Linked DNA regions of Homo sapiens: all the other regions are linked to region 2. The links come from fine-mapping of genetic effects on gene expression. A gene starts in region 2. Each other region holds a variant in brackets. All regions are shown on one strand. Distances are between the middles of the regions.

Region 1 (5,144 bases), 65 kb after region 2:
GGCCATGTGGTCATCTGGGTTTGTGGCATCAGGTGAGCAGACCTGGGTTGCCACTGACCCAGGGGCCACCCAGATGGTGTGGCGTGTCTGCCCCCATCCCCTGCATGCCGCCATCCATGCCCCCGTCCCCTGTGTGATGCCATCTGTACCTCCCTGCAGCCCTGGAGCAGCAGTGTGATGAGCATCGTCGCCGAGCCAAGGAGCTGAAGCACAAGTCCCAGCACCTCAGCAACGTGCTCATGACGCTGACGCCGGTCTCCCTGCCACCGCCTGTGAAGCGGCCCCGGCTTGCACGTGCCACATCAGGACCGGCCGCCATGGCCTCGCAGGTGCTCACCCAGTCTGCCCAGCTGGCGCTTGGCCCGGGCGTGCCCGTCCCCCAGCTGACCAGCGTGCCCCTTGGTAAAGTGGTGTCCACCCTGCCGTCCACCGTCCTGGGCAAGGGTTCCCTTCAGGCGCCCCCCGCCAGCTCCCCGGCCTCCCCGCTGCTCGGGGGATACACAGTCTTGGCCTCTTCCGGCTCCACCTACCCCAGCACAGTGGAGATCCACCCGGACGCGTCCAGCCTCACGGTCCTGAGCACGGCCGCCGTGCAGGACGGTAGCACGGTGTTCAAGGTGGTCAGCCCGCTACAGCTGCTCACGTTGCCTGGCCTGGGCCCCACCCTGCAGAACGTGGCCCAGGCCTCGCCTGGCTCCAGCACAATTGTGACAGTGCCCGCAGGGGCTGCCCCCGGGCCTGAGGAGCACACGGCCACCATTGAGGTGGCTGCCATGGCAGAGGACCACGAGCGGAAGTAGCCGACAGGAGGGCGAGGCCCCTGGGACGGACAGGGCTGGCTGTCTCTCAGCCGCGGCAGCAGGGAGCGGGCAGAGGCCGCAGGGCTGGCTCGGGCAGGTGGGTCACGTGGTCTGCAGAACCAAAGAGAGGAATCGCCAAAACAAATCACGAGAAGAGAGAAGGGGACAGAACAGCGAGAGCAACCTGGAAAATCGGTCTTCAGGTCCCACGTTTCCTCCCCCTTTTTTCTTGGGAAATATATTTTTCCATCTGTTGCTTATTAATACTGTTTACACATTGGGCCTTGATCAGGAGCCAGGTGGGCGGGGGCTAGGGGGAGCCTGGGTGCAGCAGAGACAGAGGAAGCAGAGCCAGGTGCCGAGCGCGACCCTGCAGGTGCTGGACGCGGTGCAGCAGGTCACGAGGCCCCCATGTCTGCACCCAGCCAGGTCCCTGGGGACGTTACTAACTCATGACTTGGGAGCTAAGCCCAAGTGTGAAACCTCTGGATCCTATGGATTTGGTTTCTTCCCACAGTTTTCTGTAGGTTTAGTGTGGCTGGCGCCCCGTTCTCCTCCAGTTGGGAACATGCACCCGGAGCTTGGGGTGCAGATCCTGATGGGTGCCTGCCTCCCCCGCCCCCAGCCGGTGCTCAGGTGGCCCAGGGGCCGCACAGACGAGGCGTGGTCCAGGCATTGTTGCACATGTACTGAGGGTGTTTTTAAGTGAATTGCTTAGTAGGCTTCTAGGAAGAGTCAGATTTATAGCATTTTCAACCAAAATAATGGTGAGTGCCTAGGCTTCCCGAGTTAGCTCTTTGGGTGGCCCCTGAGCCCCTGTGAGTGCACTTGACCGGGTGCGGAGGTCCTGGGCAGCCTGTCCCTGAGCCGGCCCCTCCCAGGGGTCTGAGATCCATGAGGTGTGTCCCTAGGGCTTCAGTCCTGGGGCAGAGGCATAAACAGAACCAGTCACTATGGAGGTCGAGGATTCCCATGTGGGCCCTTCAGCTTGGGCTGCTTGGCCACGGAACAGCCCTTGGCTCCCTGGCCCCCGGCCCCCATGCAGCCCCTGGGCTGGCCCTTGGTGGTCTCTGTCCAAGGGAGAGCCCCTGGGTGTTCAGGAGGCTGCCCCGGGTGGGCTGCTCAGGGCAGCTGCCGAAGGTGGAGCCCAGAGCCTGTCTGGAAGGGCTGTCTGTGGCTGTCCTGAGACCTGGCCTTGGACTCACAAGGAAGACCAGGCTGAGGCCCCTCCAGGCCAGGGTCCTGGGGCAGGCATCTCAGGGAGCAGCCAGCCCAGGCCTCCTGCCGTCTCCAACAGGGCATGTCCCGGGAGGACCCTGAGTGCCAGATTCCCCTGGACGCTCCTGCTGATTCTGTCGGCAGTTGAAGGCCCGTCTGAGGCCCCGCAATGCGAGGGTCCTGTGTCCCACTTCACTGCTCCGAAGGGAACTGGCTGGCTGTCCGTCCAGTGAGCGGCCCAGACCCCACCTCTGCGCCATTGTCACCAGGGCCCTGTCCTGGCTGCCCTCACCCATGTCAAGCTACTGAGGCTGTGTCTTGTTTGTTTTCTCTGTTACATTTTTGTTTGCTGTTGTCACAGTCAGCTGGTTTCGGCGTGATGTTGATCTTTTGATGTACATACTCCGTTTTAAACTCATTTCCACTCTAGTTGAGTTCTGCAGCATGCAGCGGTATGACCCTACGGGGGTCAGGAGAGCCCTG[C/T]GGCCCCCACCCACCAGCTCAGAACCTGTCACTAATACAGCTGCCTGTGACCCTGGGACCCGCAACCTTCCAGCTGCTTCCCTTTGTCAAAGTCACGAGTGCGTCTGCCTTGACAGCCCTCGTCAACAGAACTTCCAGTGGGTTGTGGGTTCATTTCCTTTCTTTTTAAGAACAGGGTTGGGACCTTTTCTGCCCCTGCCCCTTAGCTACTGAGGCATAGGGAGAGGAAGTTAATTTCAGAGCCATACAAAAATAAGCCACAACCAGCTTCAGAATTAATTCCCAATCCCCCATTCCACCAGGGCTGGGAGCCCATTCCCAGTGCTTCCCAAGGCCCTCGGGGACATCTACCGCCAACCCAGCTGCTTCTGGCAGGGGCTCCAAGCCCCAGCGTGGGGAAGGGCCCTGGAGAAGCCCTCATCCTCATGGGAACCACACTGCAGTGGGTGGGGAAGGTTGTTGTCAGCACCGCCCCCGGCTCCTCCAGGTCCTGCTGGCTCCTCGGGGGCAGGGTTCCCTGGACCTCCCAGTTCTGCGCCTTGGGGCCAGCCAGTACTCAGAGAGGAGGACCTTCTCAACCACGTACAGAACACGGGTTTTCATGGCTGCCTTTGGTTTGGTTTTCTGAGAAGATAGGATTGGATTGGATTTTGCAGAGGGTGAGAACTTCTCTGTGCCTGCTCAGAGGCGCCCTAGGGAAGGGCCATGTTTGAGTTTTGCTTTGTATGTTGTTTTGCAAGTATCTGCCTGGTACTTTGATTTAAAATAAAAACAATTTTCATAGTTTGAGTGTCTATCTCTTGGAATGAAGTGTGGAGAGAAATCAAGTCTATAAACACGCCCAACGCAAACAGCGCTGGCTGCCACCCCCGCCCCGGACCACTCACACCCACATGCTTCGTTCTTCCAAGTGTGGCCTGGGGGCTTCAGGACCCTTCCAGGGTGTCCCGAGGTCAAAGCTGTTTTCATCACAGCAGGTGCCCTGTGCCCTTGTCCTTCTCTCCCCAGCACGCATCGGAGTTTTCAAGAGGCCTGGTGGGAGGATCATGGCCGTTTTAGTCGTTAGTGCTACTGTAACAAAATACCGCAGGCTGGGGGGCTTGCAAGCAACAGAGGTTCATTTATGCAGTTCTGCACGCTGGCAAGTCGGAGATCAAGAGCATCAGCCGATTTGGTGCCTGGTGAGGGTTTTGAATCAGCCGATTCGGTAACTCGTGAGGGTTTTGAAGGTGTCCTGCAAATCGCTGGAGGACAATAGTAAGAACAGCCTGGGCCCCACCTTGACCCGAGGCTGGCGTCGGAGGCACCGCCGCTCACAGGTAAGGAGACCTCTCAGTGGCACAGGGGCCTGCGCCCGCCAGTCAGGAGCTCAACAGACTCACGCCCAGGGGGGCCCCTTCCTCCCCTCTCCCAGGTTCAGTCCCAGAGCCTTCTCGTCACCAACGCTGTTCCCCTCCCTGCTGCCATGGTCCACCCAAGGCCATAGGAGCCTGCACACCAGCCACAGGCCAGCCTCCCAGACTCACGGCCCAGCAAGAGGCAGACATAGAAGTCCACGCTGTGTGGTCACTGGGTGTGGTGGCTCCCGCCTGTCATCCTAGCACTTTGGGAGGCTGAGGCGGGTGGATCACCTGAGGTCAGGAGCTTGAGACCAGCCTGGCCAACATGGTGAAACCCCATCTCTACTAAAAATACAAAATTAGCTGGGCGTGGTGGCAGGTGCCTGTAATCCCAGCTACTCGGGAGACTGAGGCAGGAGAATCGCTTGAACCTGGGAGGCAGAGGTTGCAGTGAGCCGAGATTGCACCACTGCACTTCAGCCTGGGCGACCAGAGTGAAATTCTGTCTCAAAAAAAAAAAAAGTCCATGCCGCGTGGTTCCACTTAGGAAAGTTGGACACGTCCCTCAAGGCAGAATGGCATCGAAAGCCGGGTCACTGGGTGCCCTCCGGGACGGTGGCTGGAGGGGCACAGGGCGCTGGTTCCAAGAGTCCACTCTGAAACCTGCCCTTCTGCCATGGCTGCTCTTCCACGCTTGTGCCCTGCTGCAGCCCAGAGCTGATAAACGCACAGGCATGTCCTTCCAGCACACATTGGCACGGGACCACCCTCCCCACAGGTCATCTGTCAGCTCCTCAGATTCCATGTGTACAAGACAGAGCTCCTGCTTCATATTCCCTCCCATGCTCTGTCCCCATCGTGCCCCGTCGGGGAGGGGAGCACCAACACCTGCCCACAGGCTCAGCCCACCTTCCTGCAACCTCACATCCACGATGCATCCCCTTCTTGTGAGGCCAGGCCCCCTCCATCTCTCTCAGGTCGATGTAACTACCCGGTTCCCACCTCTGGCCCTTCCTACCCTCCTGCTACCCTTCCGGCTGTGACCCTTCCCATTTGCTGACACGTCCTGAGCACCCCCATCATTCCCTCTGCCCCTGGAGGGGGCTGCACCCCTCAGTATCCCACCATGATATCTCCTCCTCCTGATACTTCATGGGGTTTCAGAGGCCACAAGATACAAACCTACAAGGGGTCATGTCTTGTACCCACTGAGTGTCCCCAGGAGCCGGTGCAGCACTGGCCACTCCTCAGCTGAGGACACAGGAGTGGGGAGTGGGCTGTGGCCTGTCCAGCCCAGGGCACT
Region 2 (5,144 bases):
GTACACCTATGGCATGTGCCTGCTAGTGTGCTGTCAGTACAGCTGTTGTGTATGCCTGCTAGCACGCTGACAGTCAGTATGGCTGACAGTCAGTACCCCATTGCGTGTGCCTGCCTAGGTGCTGACAGTCAGTACCCCTGTTGTGTGTTCCTGCTAGTGCACACTGTGCACATCTACTGTGTTCCTGGCACTATGCCACGGGCTTCCACACACCTGGTCCCTGTGCTCCAGATGAGGACACAGAGGCTCAGAGAGGGCCTGGCCAGAGTCACAATGAGTGTGAGGCATTGCGGTGCTCTGAGCCTGACTGGGTGGGTCCTACCCCACCCACATGAGAAGACTCTGGAGGTCCCAGAGAGGGCTACTTCTCTTGATCCCTAGCACCTGAGCTCCAGCACCCGGGGCTGGAGTCTGCCTGAAGGATGCTGACCATCCCCAACTGCTACTGTGGTGGCCAACAGGGAGGACACAGCTGCTGTGGTGGGCAGCTCTGTGTGCCTCTCTGCCCTTCTTCCTCCTTCGCAGAGCTGGCTTCCTAGGAATGGCCCAGGGGCCAACACCTCTGTGTGTATATTAGTTTGATATGGCTTCATAGCAAATCACCACAAAACCAACAGCTTAAAACAACTCTCATTCATTACCTCCTAATTCTTAGTAACCCAAGGCTGAAACCAAGTGGGCAGTTGGGCTCAGTTCTTGTGTGGAGGCCCTGGGGTCAAACCTGCCTCCAAGCCCATTCTCTTCTTGTTGGCAGAACTCACTTCCTTGCAGTTAAGGTCTTGTTGTCTTGCTGGCTGTTGGCTGGGAGCAGTTCTCAGATCCTTGCCACGTGGCCCCCTCATCTCAACAACAGAAAACCTTCTTTGGTTTGATCCCTCCGATTTCTTCAACCAGGCAAAGGAAACTGCTTTTAAAGGGCTCCTGTGATGAGGTCAGGGCCCGCCTGGTGATCCTCCAGTCTTAAGGGTACCTCTGGGCCACACAATGTCACATTCCTGGGCATCACCCCCACCAGACTCACAGTCCCGGGGATGATGCCGGCTTGCACGTCAGGGGTCAGGACTCTCCAGGCCACCCTAGGATGTGACTGGCCTTGGGTGCTCCCACCGCACTGCTAGAGCTGAGGCTTGCCCCTGGCTTTTGTGTTGCTGAGCCAGCCTCATGGCTCTGCAAGTCTCCTGAGGTTTTCAGGGTTTTGCTCCTGGCCCTATGACTTAGTTGCTTGTAGGGCAAAGCACTTTTCTCCCTGCCTCGGTGGCTTCATCCCTGCAATGGCAAAGACGCTCCGTTTGCCTACCAGGCTTTCCCTTTGGGAGTTATGAGGAGAGGGGGAGGCAGGATAGGTTGCCCCCCACTCACTAAGTGCGCACAACCCTGGCACCCCTCCTCTCCATCGTCTGGGGGCATCATTGTTTCATCTTACCCCTGAGAAACAAAGGCCCAGCGAGGTCAGACGCTTGCCCTTGGCCTGGGCCACACAGTGAGTGAAGGTCTGAGCCCAGGCGGGAAACCACCTCTTTCACGGCAAAGCCTTTGTTCTGGCCTCACTCCTCCACTTTCACTCTTCTCCGCTCAGATCCTGCCCATCCCCTGGGCTCACAGGAGATGCCCCTTGGAGGCCTCCAGGCCAGCGCCCACCCCTGTGGCTGTGGCATCCTCTCCGATGGCAGGCACAGACCTGGACCCTGTTGGCGCCAGCCCAGCCTACAGCGGCCTTGGCGGCGAAGAGCTCTGCGGCCCCACCCCATGGGTGGGACCTGCTCCTCCGGCATTGCCCCTGCCCCGCCTGCCCTGGGGAATGGGGGCTCATCTCCACCCCCACCCCACTCTCAGGCCTCACAAAGCCAAGTTGGAGAAGCAGCTGTCCCGCTGTGAGCGGTTGGAGGGTGGGGGGTCTTGTTGCAGTTCGGGTAGCCCCCCTCCTCCGCCCTCTCCCCCTGAGAGCCGCGGCCCCTTCCGCAGCCAGGCGCTTGCTCCTCTCTCTCTTCCTCCCTCCCTTCCTCCCTCCCTCCTTCCCCCGCCCCCGCAGTCTCTCTCTCTCTCTCTCTCCTTCCCCCAACCCTCCCTCCCTCCTCCCCCCGCTCCTTCCCCCAACCCTCTCTCTCTCTCCCTCTGTCTCCCTCCCTCTCTCTCTCCCGCCGCGCCCGCCTCCCGCCCGCCCTCGCTCCCTCCACTCCTCTCCCCTCCCCTCCCCGGCACTGCAGCACCAGCCGTCTGCAGCTCCGGCCGCCACTTGCGCCTCTCCAGCCTCCGCAGGCCCAACCGCCGCCAGCACCATGGCCAGCACCATTTCCGGTAGGCTCCGGGGCCACGGGCTTTGTGGGGCGGCGGGATCTGAGCAGAGGCCTCGTCTGGCCTCGCCTGGGGCAGCGGCCGGCAGCGGACGCCAATTTCCCTTCTCCTACCCTGCGCGTTGCAAGCCTGGGCCCGACCCGCCCGAGGCTGGGGTCTGCGGCGCCGGCGGGGCTGGTGGGGCGCTGGGCTGCGAGGCGCCGCGCCGGGGAGCGCTCGGGACCGGGACGTCGGGCGGGGGCGCCTCGCCCCTGGGGGAGCAGCGTGCCACGCAGGGCGCGACTGCCGCAGGGTGGCTCCCAGACCCGGGCGTGGGCTCGCGACCGGGTGGGCGCGCTCGCGATGTGCGGGCGGGGTCCCTGGGGCGTCCGGCGACCCGAGATCTGGGTCCGCCAGAGCCTTCGTGGGGAGGCGGGGAGAGGGTGGGACCCTCTGCCAAAGCCCCAGCCGGGAACCCGGCGCTCCCCGCGCCAGTGCAGCACAGGGGCTGGAGGGGGCGCTGAAGGAGGGGGGCGGGCCAGACACGGCGGAGCCCGGAGTGAGGGGGACCGCGCCCTCCCCCCACACCGCTGCGGCCTCGGGGACCACCCTTTGCGACGCCCGCGCCACCTGCTCTGGCCAGAAAAGCCACTGCCCTTTGCGCCGCGGGGTCTGGATGGGGGAGGGGCGACTGCGATCCCCAAACCCTCCGGAGACCAGAGGGCTCCGCCCCTCCCGCCCCTCCACCTCCCGCGGGGCGGACCCACCGCCTTCGAAGGTAGCGCCCACCCCGGCCTCCCGGCCCGTCCCGCGCGGAGCTCAGGCGGAGGGGCGGGCGCAGGCCCGGGCGGGGGGCGGATTCTGGACGCAGGGGAGCTGCCGGGCGACCTCGGGCGCGAGGACGCTGGGCCCGCCCTTCCCGAAACGCTCTGCTCCGCCGCGAGGCCGCAGAACCCGCTTCGTTTTTCACTCGACGTTTGGGAGGACAGGACGAAGGGCCGCACCTCCTTCCCATCGCCGCCCCCGTTCACGAGCCGCACTCCCTCCCACCTTTTCTTACGCCCCCGGGACAGGTCGCCGCGGTCCCTCTCCCGAGCTGACTGGTTCAACTCGGGCGCCTTGGCCCGGGGCGCAGAACTCCGCCCACCCACGCGTGCCCGACCTGACCCCGCCCCTCAGGCCCCACGGGCTTGGAGGCTCCAGGTGACTTCAGCACCTGCCAGGAGGGGACCGTGTGTGTCACCGGCCACACCTCCCCACCCTATCTGGGAGTCCTGTCCATCTGCGCTTCCTCCCTCCGCCTCCTCCTGGACACCCCCGGGGATACTGGGGGTGGGGGGGCTCTCAGCGGAGGGGACTCCCCTCCTGCCCCTGAGGGCAGCGCCGTCCTCTCCAGGGCCGCCTCCTGCCCTTCCTGACAGCCTTTCCCTGACGGTCCCTCCCCATGGGCTCGGTTCCTGGGGCTGAGCTGGGAGGGCGAGGGCATCTCGGCATCTGGGCACTGGCTCCTCGCTCTTTTGTGGCCTCTGCTCACATTCTCCTTCTGCAACCCAGAGTCTGACCTCCTCCAGCTGTGTGGTGTTGTCCGAGCTGCCTAACCTCTCAGGACCTGGGTCTCCTTATCTGGGTAGAGATGACGGTGCTGGCACCTCTCCTGGGGCTTGTTCTGAGGCCTCAATATTTCAGGAAAGGTGCTTGGCCGCTTGCCTGCTAAGAGATGAGTGCTCACCGCACGTCAAGCAGCCTGACTGTGGTAGCCACATTTCTGAGTTTCCTGCCCAGGGAAAGGCAAATCGGCTGGTGGCTCCTGCCATGCTGTGCTCCTGGCACCATGAGAAGCAGCCTGGGTGACAGTGACCTCCATCTGCCCCCGGGGGGAGCCGGCAGCAGCCTCCAGGGCCCTCCAGGGGTCAGAGGCCACTGTGGTCCCCTGGCCTCTCAGTTCTGGACAGATCCCCCACCTCCGCGAGCTCCCAACAGGAGCCTGCAGTCAGGCCCAGGCTCATGACTGGGCTCTCACCCGGCACTCTGTGTGATGCTGGGTGGAATGCTTGCCCTCTCTGAGCCTTCATTCCTCCTCTGTAGAAGTGAGGCAGATAGGGTGGCTCATGCCTGTAATCCCAGCACTTTGAGAGGCTGAGGCCGGTGGATAAACTGAGGTCAAGAGTTCGAGACTAGCCTGGCCAACATGGTGAAATCCCCCCTCTCTGCTAAAAGTACAAAATTAGCCAGGTGTGGTGACACACTCCTGTGATCCCAGCAATCTGGGAGACTGAGGCAGGATAATTGCTTGACCCGGGGAGAGGGAGGTTGCAGTGAGCTGAGATTGTGCCATTGCACTCCAGCCTGGGCAGCAAGAGTAGAAACTCTTTCTAAAAAAAAAAAAAAAGAAGAAAGAAGAGGAGGAAGACGAAGAAGACGAAAGAGAAGGAGAAGGAGAGCTGATAAGGGCATCCACCCGGGTGGGCGGGAGGGGTGGGTGTGAGGTGTGACCCTGGGAGTGGGCACCATCCACCTGGGCGGCGGGAGGGGTGGGCGTGAGGTGTGACCCTGGGAGTGGGCACCATCCACCTGGACGGCGGGAGGGGTGGGCGTGAGGTGTGACCCTGGGAGCGGGCACCATCCACCCGGGCGGGCGGGAGGGGTGGGCGTGAGGTGTGACCCTGGGAGCGGGCACCATCCACCCGGGTGGGCGTCAGGTGTGACCCTGGGAGCGGGCACCATCCACCCGGGTGGGTGGGAGGGGCGGGCGTGAGGTGTGACCCTGGGAGTGGGCACCATCCACCTGGGCGACGGGAGGGGTGGGCGTGAGGTGTGACCCTGGGAGTGGGCACCATCCACCTGGACGGCGGGAGGGGTGGGCGTGAGGTGTG
Region 3 (5,144 bases), 55 kb after region 2:
AATACCTGACCCACAAGCTCCAAAAACGTCAAGGTGAAGAAAAACACAGACAGGCTGAGAAGCTGCTCCGTCTTTTTTTTTTTTTTTTTTTTTTGAGATGGAGTCTTCCTCTGTTGCCCAGACTGGAGTGCAATGGCGCGATCTTGGCTCACCGCAACCTCCGCTTCCTGGGTTCAAGTGATTCTCTTGCCTCAGCCTCCTGAGTAGCTGGGACTACGGGCACCCACCACCATGCCTGGCTGATTTTTGTATTTTTAGTAGAGATGGGGTTTTGCCATGTTGGCCAGGCTGAGCCCGAACTCCTGACCTCAGGTGACCTGCCCGCCTTGGCCTCCCAAAGTGCTGGGATTACAGGCGTGAGCCACCGCGCCCGGCCTGCTGCAGTCTTAATGGGGACAAAAGCCGAAGAGCAAGGCAGCTGCATGCTCCACAGTCTTGGGCTGGATCCTGCATCAGAAAAAAATGTAGGCTGGGCATGGTGACTCACGCCTGTAATCCCAGCACTTTGGGAGGCCGAGGCGGGTGAATCACCTGAGGTCAGGAGTTCGAGACCAGCGCAGCCAACATGGTGAAACCCCATCTCTGCGACAAATACAAAAAAATTGGCCAGGCATGGTGGCATGTGCCTGTACTCCCAGCTACTCGGGAGGCTGAGGCAAGAGAATCTCTTGAACCCGGGAGGCGGAGGTTGCAGTGAGCCCAAGATTGCACCAGTGCACTCCAGCCTGGACGACAGAGTGAGACTCCATCTCAAAAAAAAAAATTTTTTTTTTGCAATAAAGGCTATCATTGGAACAATTCATGAATTTGACTATGGACAATGGATTAGAGAATAATGTATGAATGATAATTTCCTGATGCGAGTTGTTCTGTGGCTGCGTAAGAGAAGCTTGTTCTTAGGAAATATACACAAGTGTTGAGGGCCCAGGGGCCCGACGTCTCTGCTTCACTCTCAGTAGCTGCACGTGCACAGGTCTAGGCGGGGGCAAGGGGGCAGACGGGAGCAGGCAGTGAGTCCGGAACGCACGTGTGAGAGCTCCCTGGACTATCCTGGCAATTACCCTGTGAGTTTGAAATTGTATTAGAATTAGAAGTTGGAAACACGAAAGAAATGTACCATAGGTGACATCATAATGAAATTCCAGAAGGACGGGGACAGAGAAGATCCTCAGTCTAGCCAGGAGGAGAGACGGATCGCTCAGTAGCAAGAATCCCGCCGGCCGTGAGCTCCCGAAAGCAGCGCAGGAGCAGAGGTGGCAGCGCCAGAGCCTCACTGTGTGGCGAGTGACGACACCGTGAGGTCGTCTTTGAAATTATGCTGGAAGAAAGACGTTTCCAGAAAAAGACACGAGTTTGCCACCAGCAGATCATGATGGAAGGATGTTCTAAATATGCATTGCAGGCGGAGATAGGAGGCCTCCAGATGGAAGCGCTGTGCTGTGAGGAGGTGTGAAGAGTCGGGGAAACGTGGGTCACCCGACCAGTCCTGTCTATTCAGCATCGAGAGAGACGCCCTGGAGGGCCTCAGAGATGAGAGCAGGGCCACGTGGCTGTGGTCTGGAGGGTCAGGAGCGGGCCGAGTTAGCTCCGGGGGGTCAGGAGCGGCCACGTTAGCTCCGGGGGGTCAGGAGCGGGCCGCGTTAGCGCTGGAGGGTCAGGAGCGGCTGCGTTAGCTCTGGGGGGTCAGGAGTGGCCGCGTTAGCTCTGGGCTCTGGCAGCTCTGGTAAGCGTGACATGCTGAAGCTCCTGGAGCCACTCATGAGAGTACAGCATGTAGCTTCCTAGCTGGGAGAGGAAAACCTGGGGTGAGAAGAGTAACAAAGGTGAAAGCAAGAAAGGAAAGAGGCAGGCCTAGGAGGGGCAGGGAGGTGAGGCTGGCTGAGCCCAGAGCCCTAGGTAGGATCAGGCCCTTTGGGTGCAGTTGAGTTTCCTAGGTGTGAGCCACGTTGGGTAGAAGTGATGGCCGGAAGCAGCCTCAGTCACAGCCAGTGCAGCCTTCCTGCCAGGCTCCGACAGTGGCCAGAGAATCTTCTGGATTCCACCTTCTGGACTTCTATGGGATCTCCCTGATCAGCCGCATGAGGGAGAGCCAGAGACTGGCTGGGCTTAGTGTTCCCGTCTGTGGCACAGGGGTCATGAGAGGGTGGGCTCAGGGATTGGGAACATCACTTCCTTCAGCAAGCTAGACTTGGGCACGGCCCGGGGGTGGAGGCGGCCCCCGTACTCGGGCCTCCTGGGTCCAGCTGCAGAGACCTCGTGACTCCTCCATCCCCAGCCTGCTTGTTTTCTAAGTAAATGCAGTTTTATTCCAGTTTTTGGTTTCAATAATTGCTTGTGTAACAAGATTGAACAGGATATTTTACCTTCTCAGTTTCTCTGAGCTCCCACATGGGTGAAATTAGCAAGCAGGAGGGTTCCCCTGGCTTAGAAACAGATGAGTGTGTGTGTGTGTGTGTGTGTGTGTGTGTCAGAGTGAGAGCAGGTGCCGGTGTTTGCTGCACGGGGCAAGGTGGTGTCAGGAGGGACCTGAGGAAGGTGGCGTTCACAGCTCCACCCATGTGCTGGCATCTGTTGCCATCTGCGATGTAACGTATGCAATAACGTGTATTTATAAAATACATTGCACAGAAGCAGTTTGCTTAGTCTGCCTGGAGGAAGAGAAGGCCACACACCTTCTACCTGGTGTGGTCAGCCCAGCCCTGTCTAGCCCCAGGCACACAGCAGCTCTGCCCCCTCAGGGCTGGAGGAGACACCACTCCCCACTGCAGCCACCGTGCCTGTGGGTCATGTCCTTGTTTTACCTGAATGCTCTGTAGGAGGCCTGCACCGGTCAGAGCCGTGCCGTGGCGCTTTTCCTGCCTT[G/A]CGCGCCTGACTCAGGGTCGGATGGGAGATGGGGGCACCCTATGTGGTGTCCCGGCCAAGCTTGACCCACATGACTGTGTCCCCCACAGTACGACGAGCATGTAATCAGCCCAAAGGAATTTGTGCACCTGGCCGGGAAGTCCACCCTGAAGGACTGGAAGAGAGCCATCCGCATGAACGGCATCATGCTCAGGTGGGCGCTGGCGCAGGGTCAGCCTCCCTGCTGGAAGGGGCCCTGGCAGCTCTTGCTTTCTTGTGGGGTTTTGGGATTTTGAAGATGAGGCGTATTTTAGATGTGGTGAGTGCTGACAACCTCCCGGGTGGCTGCTGCACCTGCTCACACCCAAAACTGTAAACCCGTCTCCCACACTCCTGCCAACAGGGACACTATCAGATTTTTAGAATTGTTTTGTCAGTCATTTTAATTTCCACCAATTCTTTACCTGAAGGCACTTGTGACTGTTTCAGCGTTGTAAAATAAAGGGTTGGCTGGGCACATGGCTCACACCTGCAATCCCAACACTTTAGGAGGCTGAGGCAGGAGGATCACTTGACGCCAAGAGTTTGAGACCAGCCTGGGCACAATAATGAGACCTCATCTCTACTAAAAATAAAAAAAAAATTATCTGGATTTGGTGACATATGCCTGTGGTCCCAGCTGCTCGAGAGGCTAAGGTGGAAGGATCACTGGAGCCTGGAAGTCAAGGCTGCAGTGAGCTGTGATTGTGCCACTGCAATACAGCTTGGGTTACAGAGTGAGACTCTGTCTCAAAAAAAAAAAAAAACAAGAATAAAAAGGAAAAGAAAAGGGTCTGTTCCAATTATGCATTCTGAAAATAAAAAATAAAAGAAAGGTATAATCTGGTATTTGTGCATCAGATTTTGGCCTTTTATGTTACTCCTTATTTCTGTCCTTTCTTTCACTTTTTTTTTGAGAGGGAGTCTTGCTCTGTTGCCCAGGCTGGAGTGCAGTGGCATGATCTTGGCTCACTGCGAACTCTGCCTCCTGGGTTCAAGCGATTCTCTTCCTCACCCTCCCCAGTAGCTGGGTTTACAGGTGCTCGCCAGCACACCCGGCTAATTTTTGTATTTTTAGTAGAGACGGGATTTTGCCATATTGTCCAGGCTGGTCTCGAACACTTGACCTCAGGTGATTGACCTGCCTCAGCCTCCCAAAGTGCTGGGATTCCAGGCATGAGCCACCGTGCCCGGCCTTCACTTATCTGTGAATCATAAGCCTCAGTCTCAGTCTTTGTGGGCCTGGCCTCTACCTTGCTTCCCAAGGAGGGCCCCTGCTTTGTGCTGGAGTCAGAGTTTGAGACCTCACGAGTGACTAGCCCTGGGTCCTTTCCCATGGCTCAGGTCCTTTCCCTGTCCAGCTGAACTGGCCTCTGATTTTCTGGAACGTGGCTGGTGGCACAGCTGTGGGGACCACCGGCCAGGTAGGCAAGTCCTGAGCTGACCACAGAAGCATTAGCCTGTGTGTGCCTGAGGTCAGTGCTGCCCAAAGATTGAATGAGGCTGGAGCCTCTGACCCTCGTTTCATGGGTCGAGGCAGGCTCGTTGAGACACACAGGACTGAGACCCTGGACCTCCGGAGAGGCAGAAGAGAGGGCCCTGGGAGGGCGGCTCTCAGCAGTTTGGGCCGTACGAAGCCTTCCTGGTAAAGATGAGGATGAGCGGCAGCCATGGCCGTTGGTGCTGTCCTGCGCCCTCATCACTCTTCTTGGCTGTCTCTGTGCCTTTAGAAGGAGGAAGGTTCTCCTGGAAGTGATTTCCCACCTTCCTCTGCTTCAGAATGAGTCACGCATGATGCAGGTGGACTGGGCCCACCTTTGTTAGCTGTGGGTCACTCCCTTGGGGCTGGGGTAGTGGGACATCCCAGAAAGGCCCAGCCCCACAGACTCTGACGGGCACCTCCAGGACACCCACTGGCCAGCGCTTGCCCCCTTCCTGGGGACAGTGCCGTAGCGTGGGCCTGGGCCGGCTGCTTCTTCAGCAGCAGGGTCCTGCACGCCGAGCTCGCGCTAAGAGGGAAGTAGAGCCCACCCTGCCCTGTGGAGCTGCCAGCGCCTCTGCTAGGCCTGCCCCACGCAGGTGGATGGCCCAGGTCAGGGTGGGCGGGCCAGGTGCCTTCGGCTCTGGGGCCGACCTGGACGCTCCATGCCACTGTCTGTCACAGGAAGATCATGGACTCCGGGGAACTGGACTTCTACCAGCATGACAAGGTCTGCTCCAACACCTGCCGCAGCACAAAGATTGACCTCTCAGGAGCCCGTGTG
Region 4 (5,144 bases), 41 kb after region 2:
GCGTCTTCCCAGATGCTGGCGTTACCGCTAGACCAAGGAGCCCTCTGGTGGCCCTGTCCAGGCATAACAGAAGGCTCGCACTCTTGTCTTCTGGTCAGTTCTCACTATGTCCCCTCAGCTCCTATCTCTGTATGGCCTAGTTTTTCCTAGGTTATGATTTCCTAGTTTTTCCTAGGTTATGCTTAGGCAAGGATTATTATAATATTGGAATAAAGAGTAATTGCTACAAACTAATGATGAATGATATTCATATATAATCATATTTATGATCTATATCTAGTATAACTATTCTTATTTTATGCATTTTATTACACCGGAACAGCTCGTGCCCTCGGTCTCTTGCCTCGGCACCTAGGTGGCTTGCCGCCCATACCAGGGTCCATCTGATGGAGTGGGTGTTGCCCAGTCTGACAAATGCAGGGCGGCCTTCACATCCTAGGGGGTCTCTTTACCCTGCCCTGCTCTGCACTCTTCCCTCCCCCTCCTGTCCAGACCACCCACATGCTAGACTCTCACACCCAAGAGAAGTCTCACGAACATGTCGCAGGAGCATCAAGGACACTGGAGTTACCCATTTGAAATGTGGAGAGTTCAACATTAAGTACATTTTTATTGATAAACAAAAATGGGCCAGGCGCAGTGGCTCACACCTGTAATCCCAGCACTTTGGGAGGCCAGGGTGGGTGGATCACTTGTCAGGAATTTGAGACCAGTCTGGCCAACATGGTGAAACCCCGTCTCTACTAAAAGTACAAAAATTAGCCAGGCGTGGTGGCGGGCGCCTGTAATCCAGTTGGGAGGCTGCAGCAGGAGAATTGCTTGAACCAGGGAGATGGAGGTTACAGTGAGCCGAGATTGTGCCACTGCACTCCAGCCTGGGTGACAGAGCGAGACTCAGTCTCAAAAAAAAAAAAAAAAGAAAACAAAAATGTTGTAGTAATAAAATCCTGCACAGTTGTCTTCGTACACAGTTGTGGCTTAGAGCTCTCCTCTGTGGGTGTCTTGCCGGCTGGTGGCAGTGACGGACCAGGGCAGTGGCAGACACAGGCGCACGGCTGGCGCAGTGCCCTGGAGGCTGGTGTCCCACTTGCTGTCTTGGTTTCCTGTGGTCACTGTGGAAGGTGGCTCCTGTAGGTTAGCTTTGCTTTATGAACACTGAGTAGGAGCTTTTTTTCTAGGATGTTAAAAGAATTTGCTCACATCTTATGCTTGAGTTAACTCTTTGAAGAACAGTGAGAAGTAGAGAGGAAATAATTGCCAAGTTCTCTTGCTTGCTCTGTTTATGATTGTGTCAGTTTTCTTTTGCTGTTTAAGAAAACACCCAATGGCAGGCACCTGTAGTCCCAGTTACTCAGGAGGCTGAGGCAGGGGAATGGCGTGAATCCGGGGGGCAGAGCTTGCAGTGAGCCAAGATTGCGCCACTGCACTCCAGCCTGGGCAACAGAGTGAGACTGCGTCTCCGAAAAAAAAAAAGAAAAAGAAAGAAAGAAACCATCCAAAACTTAGTGGCTTAAGACAAGACATAGTTGTTATTATTTTTAATTCTGTTGGTTGGTTCGTGGTTCTGCTGGTCTGGGCCGGCCTCACCAACCCCTGTCGTCAGCTGACAGCTTGGCAAGGACCTGCTGGTCTGGGTGGCCTTGGCCACAGGGGTCTCTGGAGGGAGGCAGTCTGAGGCACAGGTAGGCTCGGCTGGGTGGCTCTCCTCTGCTTTGCCCGGTCTGTGATCCTCCACCTGGAGGCCTGGACTTCTTTGCCCCGTAAGCCCACAGTTGCAGAGGAAAGTGGGCCTCCTGCTCACTTCTGTTGCCTTGATTGACGCAAGCGACATCACCAAGTGCTGGTTCAAGGGCAGAGCTAAGACTGCCTCTTGGTAGGAAGTTACAAAACGTTGAGATCATTTCTGTGGCCACAGAATGACATTTCCATTCGTCCGCCTCCCGCCTTTTCCTGGGCCTTCCCAGCTCACCCCTTGTGGCCACGTCGGGTCTGGGTGTGGCTGGGGCTTCTTGGTTATGGCACGTCTTGATCCAGAGACTGGTGAACTAAAACCTAGCGACTTCCCCTCCCCTACTGAGCGTGCGGTGGCAGACAAGACAGGACGGGCTCCAGGGCAGGTGGCTTGTTCGAAGGCACCTCACTGATCCAAGATGGGGCAGGGTGGCCCTTTGGCCAGATGCGGCCAGAAAGCTTTCTAAGGTGTGAGGGAAGAGTGACAACCATAGCCCAGGTTGGTCTTTATTCTGAGACCATCTCTTTTTTAAATTTTCTATTTTTTATATTTTTTCCTTTCTTAGATTTCTGTGGGTCAGAACCATTTTTTACCTTGACAGAGTCTTTTGCCAGTGGAGAAACTGGAGACATGAAATGATTTTTTGTTTTTCGAAACAGAGTCTCGTTCTGTTGCACAGACTGGAGTGCAGTGGCACAGTCACGGCTCATGGCAGCCGTGACCTCCTGGGTTCAAGGAATCGTCCTGCCTCAGCCTCCTGAGTAGCTGGGACTCTACAGGCATGTGCCACCATGCCCGGCCCCGTGTAGATTTTTAGTACAGTGCTGGGACTGCAGGCATGTGCCACCACGCCTGGCTAATGGGCTCTCACTGTGTTGCCCAAGCTAGTCTTGAACTCCTGGACTCAAGCAGTCCTCCCACCTCAGCCTCC[C/T]GAAGCACTGGGGTTACAGGCTTGAGCCACCATGTCTGGCCGATGCAAAACAATTTGATCCCCTGGGGATTCCTTGTTTGGAGAAGAACCTTCTAGCTCCACTGTGTCTGGAATGTTCCTTGCGAGATCACACTAGTCAGATGTGTTTCCTTTTTTTTTTTTGAGACCAAGTCTCACTCCGTCACACAGGCTGGAGTGCAGTGGCATGATCTCAGCTCACTGCAGCAGCCTCCACCTCCCGGGTTCAAGTAAATCTCTTGCCTCAGCCTCCTGAATAGCAGGGATTACAGGCACCCGCCACCACGCCTGCCTAAATTTTGTATTTTTCGTAGAGACAGGGTTTCACCATATTGGCCAGGCTGGTCTTGAACTCCTGACCTCAAGTGATCCACCACCTTGGCCTCCCAAAGTGCTGGGATTATAGGCATGAGCCACCACGCCCAGCCTGTTTCTTCTCTTTTAAATTGCTGTGGCATAAGGTCCTGCCAAGGTTTCCTCTGCCTCATGGCACAGTGGCCCCTTCCACACACAAGAGCCGGGTCTGGGATGGCATTTGTGCCCTTAGCCTGTGCCCTCTCCCCACGCAGAGGCGGTGCTGTGTGTCCCAGGCTGGGGACAGCAGTGCTTGTTTCTGGCAGTTTCTGAATTAGCCATGCTTGCAGCCTAACAAACCACCGCAGAGCTTGGTGGCTTAAAGCAGCAGACACTGGTCATTTCTTAAGGTTTTCGGGCCTGGGCTGGTGCTGCTGGGCCTCGCCGGGGGGTCCAGGCTGGGCTCACTTGCATATCCGGGCATTGGTGGGCTGGCCGAGGCTCTGCATGTGGTCCTCATCTGCCAGGACACCTGCCTGGGTGTGCTTAGCAGGAGGAGAGCCAGAGTCCTCGTAGGGCCTCGTCACAGCCTCTTGGTCAAAGCTCTTCAAAGCTTGGCCCAAAGTCAAGTGGAGGGGGTGGGAAATAGCCCCCTGTCTTGATGGAGGGAGCCATGAAGGACCAGAGGGCATTTTTCAGTCTGCAGTTGCTTTGCCAGGACGCCAAGGCTCTGCCCTCGCGGGACAGTGGCTTATGGAGCAGTGGAGAGTCTGCATGCGCCTTCTTCTCTGAGAAGAGAACCCCACGTGGCAGCTGAGGCAGGGCTGTCTTGAAGGACTTAAAGATCCTCTTCTTTTTTGTGGGGAATTAAATCTGTTCTTCTACCATCTGGAAATTGAGACTTCCTCTTGCTACATGTTTTTTTTGTTTTGTTTTCTTTTTTTGAGACAGATTCTCACTCTGTCGCCCAGACTGGAGTGCAATGGCGCGATCTCGGCTCACTGTAACCTCCACCTCCCGGGTTCACGCCATTCTCTTGCCTCAGCCTCCTGAGTAGCTGGGCCTACAGGCGCCCGCCACCACGCCCGGCTAATTTTTTGTATTTTTAGTAGAGACGGGGTTTCACCGTGTTAGCCAGGATGGTCTCGATCTCCTGACCTTGTGATCCGCCTGCCTCGGCCTCCCAAAGTGCTGGGATTACAGGTGTGAGCCACCGTGCCCGGCTGGTGTGCGTGTGTTTTTAAGCAAACTTCTGGAAGTTTAGAAGTGCACACATCATACAGTTGGCTGTTATGAGGTGCACAGCTGGGAACCCCACCCAGACCTCTCCCAGCTTCTCCACATCATCTCCCCAGAGGCAGCTGCCCGCACGGGTTCCAGAAACTGGAGACTTGTTCCCTGTTTCAGACAACCCTCATGCCAGTGTGGGAACACCATGTCTGCAGGATTAATTTCTAGAAATGGAGGTGGAGTCAGAGGGGCATGTTTCTAGAAATGGAGGTGGGGTCAGAGGGGCATGTTTCTAGAAATGGAGGTGGGGTCAGAGGGGCATGTTTCTAGAAATGGATGTGTGGGTCAGAGGGGCATGTTTCTAGAAATGGAGGTGAGGTCAGAGGGGCATGTTTCTAGAAATGGAGGTGTGGGTCAGAGGGGCATGTTTCTAGAAATGGAGGTGGGGTCAGAGGGGCATGTTTCTAGAAATGGAGGTGGGGTCAGAGGGACATGTTTCTAGAAATGGAGGTGTGGGTCAGAGGGGCATGTTTCTAGAAATGGAGGTGGGTCAGAGGGGCATGTTTCTAGAAATGGAGGTGGGTCAGAGGGGCATGTTTCTAGAAATGGATGTGGGGTGAGAGGGGCATGTTTCTAGAAATGGAGGTGGGTCAGAGGGGCATGTTTCTAGAAATGGAGGTGAGGTCAGAGGGGCATGTTTCTAGAAATGGAGGTGGGGTCAGAGGGGCATGTTTCTAGAAATGGATGTGGGGTCAGAGGGACATGTTTCTAGAAATGGATGTGGGGTGAGAGGGGCATGTTTCTAGAAATGGAGGTGGGGTCAGAGGGGCATGTTTCTAGAAATGGAGGTGAGGTCAGAGGGGCATGTTTCTAGAAATGGATGTGTGGGGTCAGAGTGGCATGTTTCTAGAAATGGAGGTGAGTCAGAGGGACATGTTT

What was found. PIP is the estimated chance that this variant, and not a neighbour inherited with it, causes the effect.
Region 1: its variant is fine-mapped to the expression of STMN3 in whole blood (TOPMed, PIP above 0.99).
Region 3: its variant is fine-mapped to the expression of STMN3 in whole blood (TOPMed, PIP 0.99).
Region 4: its variant is fine-mapped to the expression of STMN3 in whole blood (INTERVAL, PIP above 0.99).

What each region holds. Positions count from the first base shown.
Region 1 is chr20:63,585,745-63,590,888 of GRCh38, reverse strand. It overlaps GMEB2 (glucocorticoid modulatory element binding protein 2), which reads left to right. Exons shown (of 10, transcript NM_012384.5): 10 at 160-3,284. The coding sequence ends at 800. Among named protein-coding and RNA genes, the nearest start is that of HELZ2, 14 kb to the right of the region's middle. RefSeq lists enhancers at 392-561, 2,479-2,648, 3,242-3,411 and a cis regulatory region at 3,326. The variant C/T (reference allele first, on the strand shown) is at 2,502.
Region 2 is chr20:63,650,478-63,655,621 of GRCh38, reverse strand. STMN3 (stathmin 3) reads left to right here and starts at 2,198. Exons shown (of 5, transcript NM_015894.4): 1 at 2,198-2,295. The coding sequence starts at 2,277. RefSeq lists enhancers at 860-1,538, 1,539-2,218, 3,495-4,065 and silencers at 2,361-2,410, 2,431-2,520.
Region 3 is chr20:63,595,668-63,600,811 of GRCh38, reverse strand. It overlaps GMEB2 (glucocorticoid modulatory element binding protein 2), which reads left to right. Exons shown (of 10, transcript NM_012384.5): 5 at 2,952-3,055; 6 at 5,045-5,144. Among named protein-coding and RNA genes, the nearest start is that of HELZ2, 24 kb to the right of the region's middle. RefSeq lists an enhancer at 2,837-3,006. The variant G/A (reference allele first, on the strand shown) is at 2,863.
Region 4 is chr20:63,609,296-63,614,439 of GRCh38, reverse strand. All of the region lies in intron 2 of GMEB2 (glucocorticoid modulatory element binding protein 2), which reads left to right. Among named protein-coding and RNA genes, the nearest start is that of GMEB2, 15 kb to the left of the region's middle. RefSeq lists enhancers at 312-481, 3,778-3,947. The variant C/T (reference allele first, on the strand shown) is at 2,664.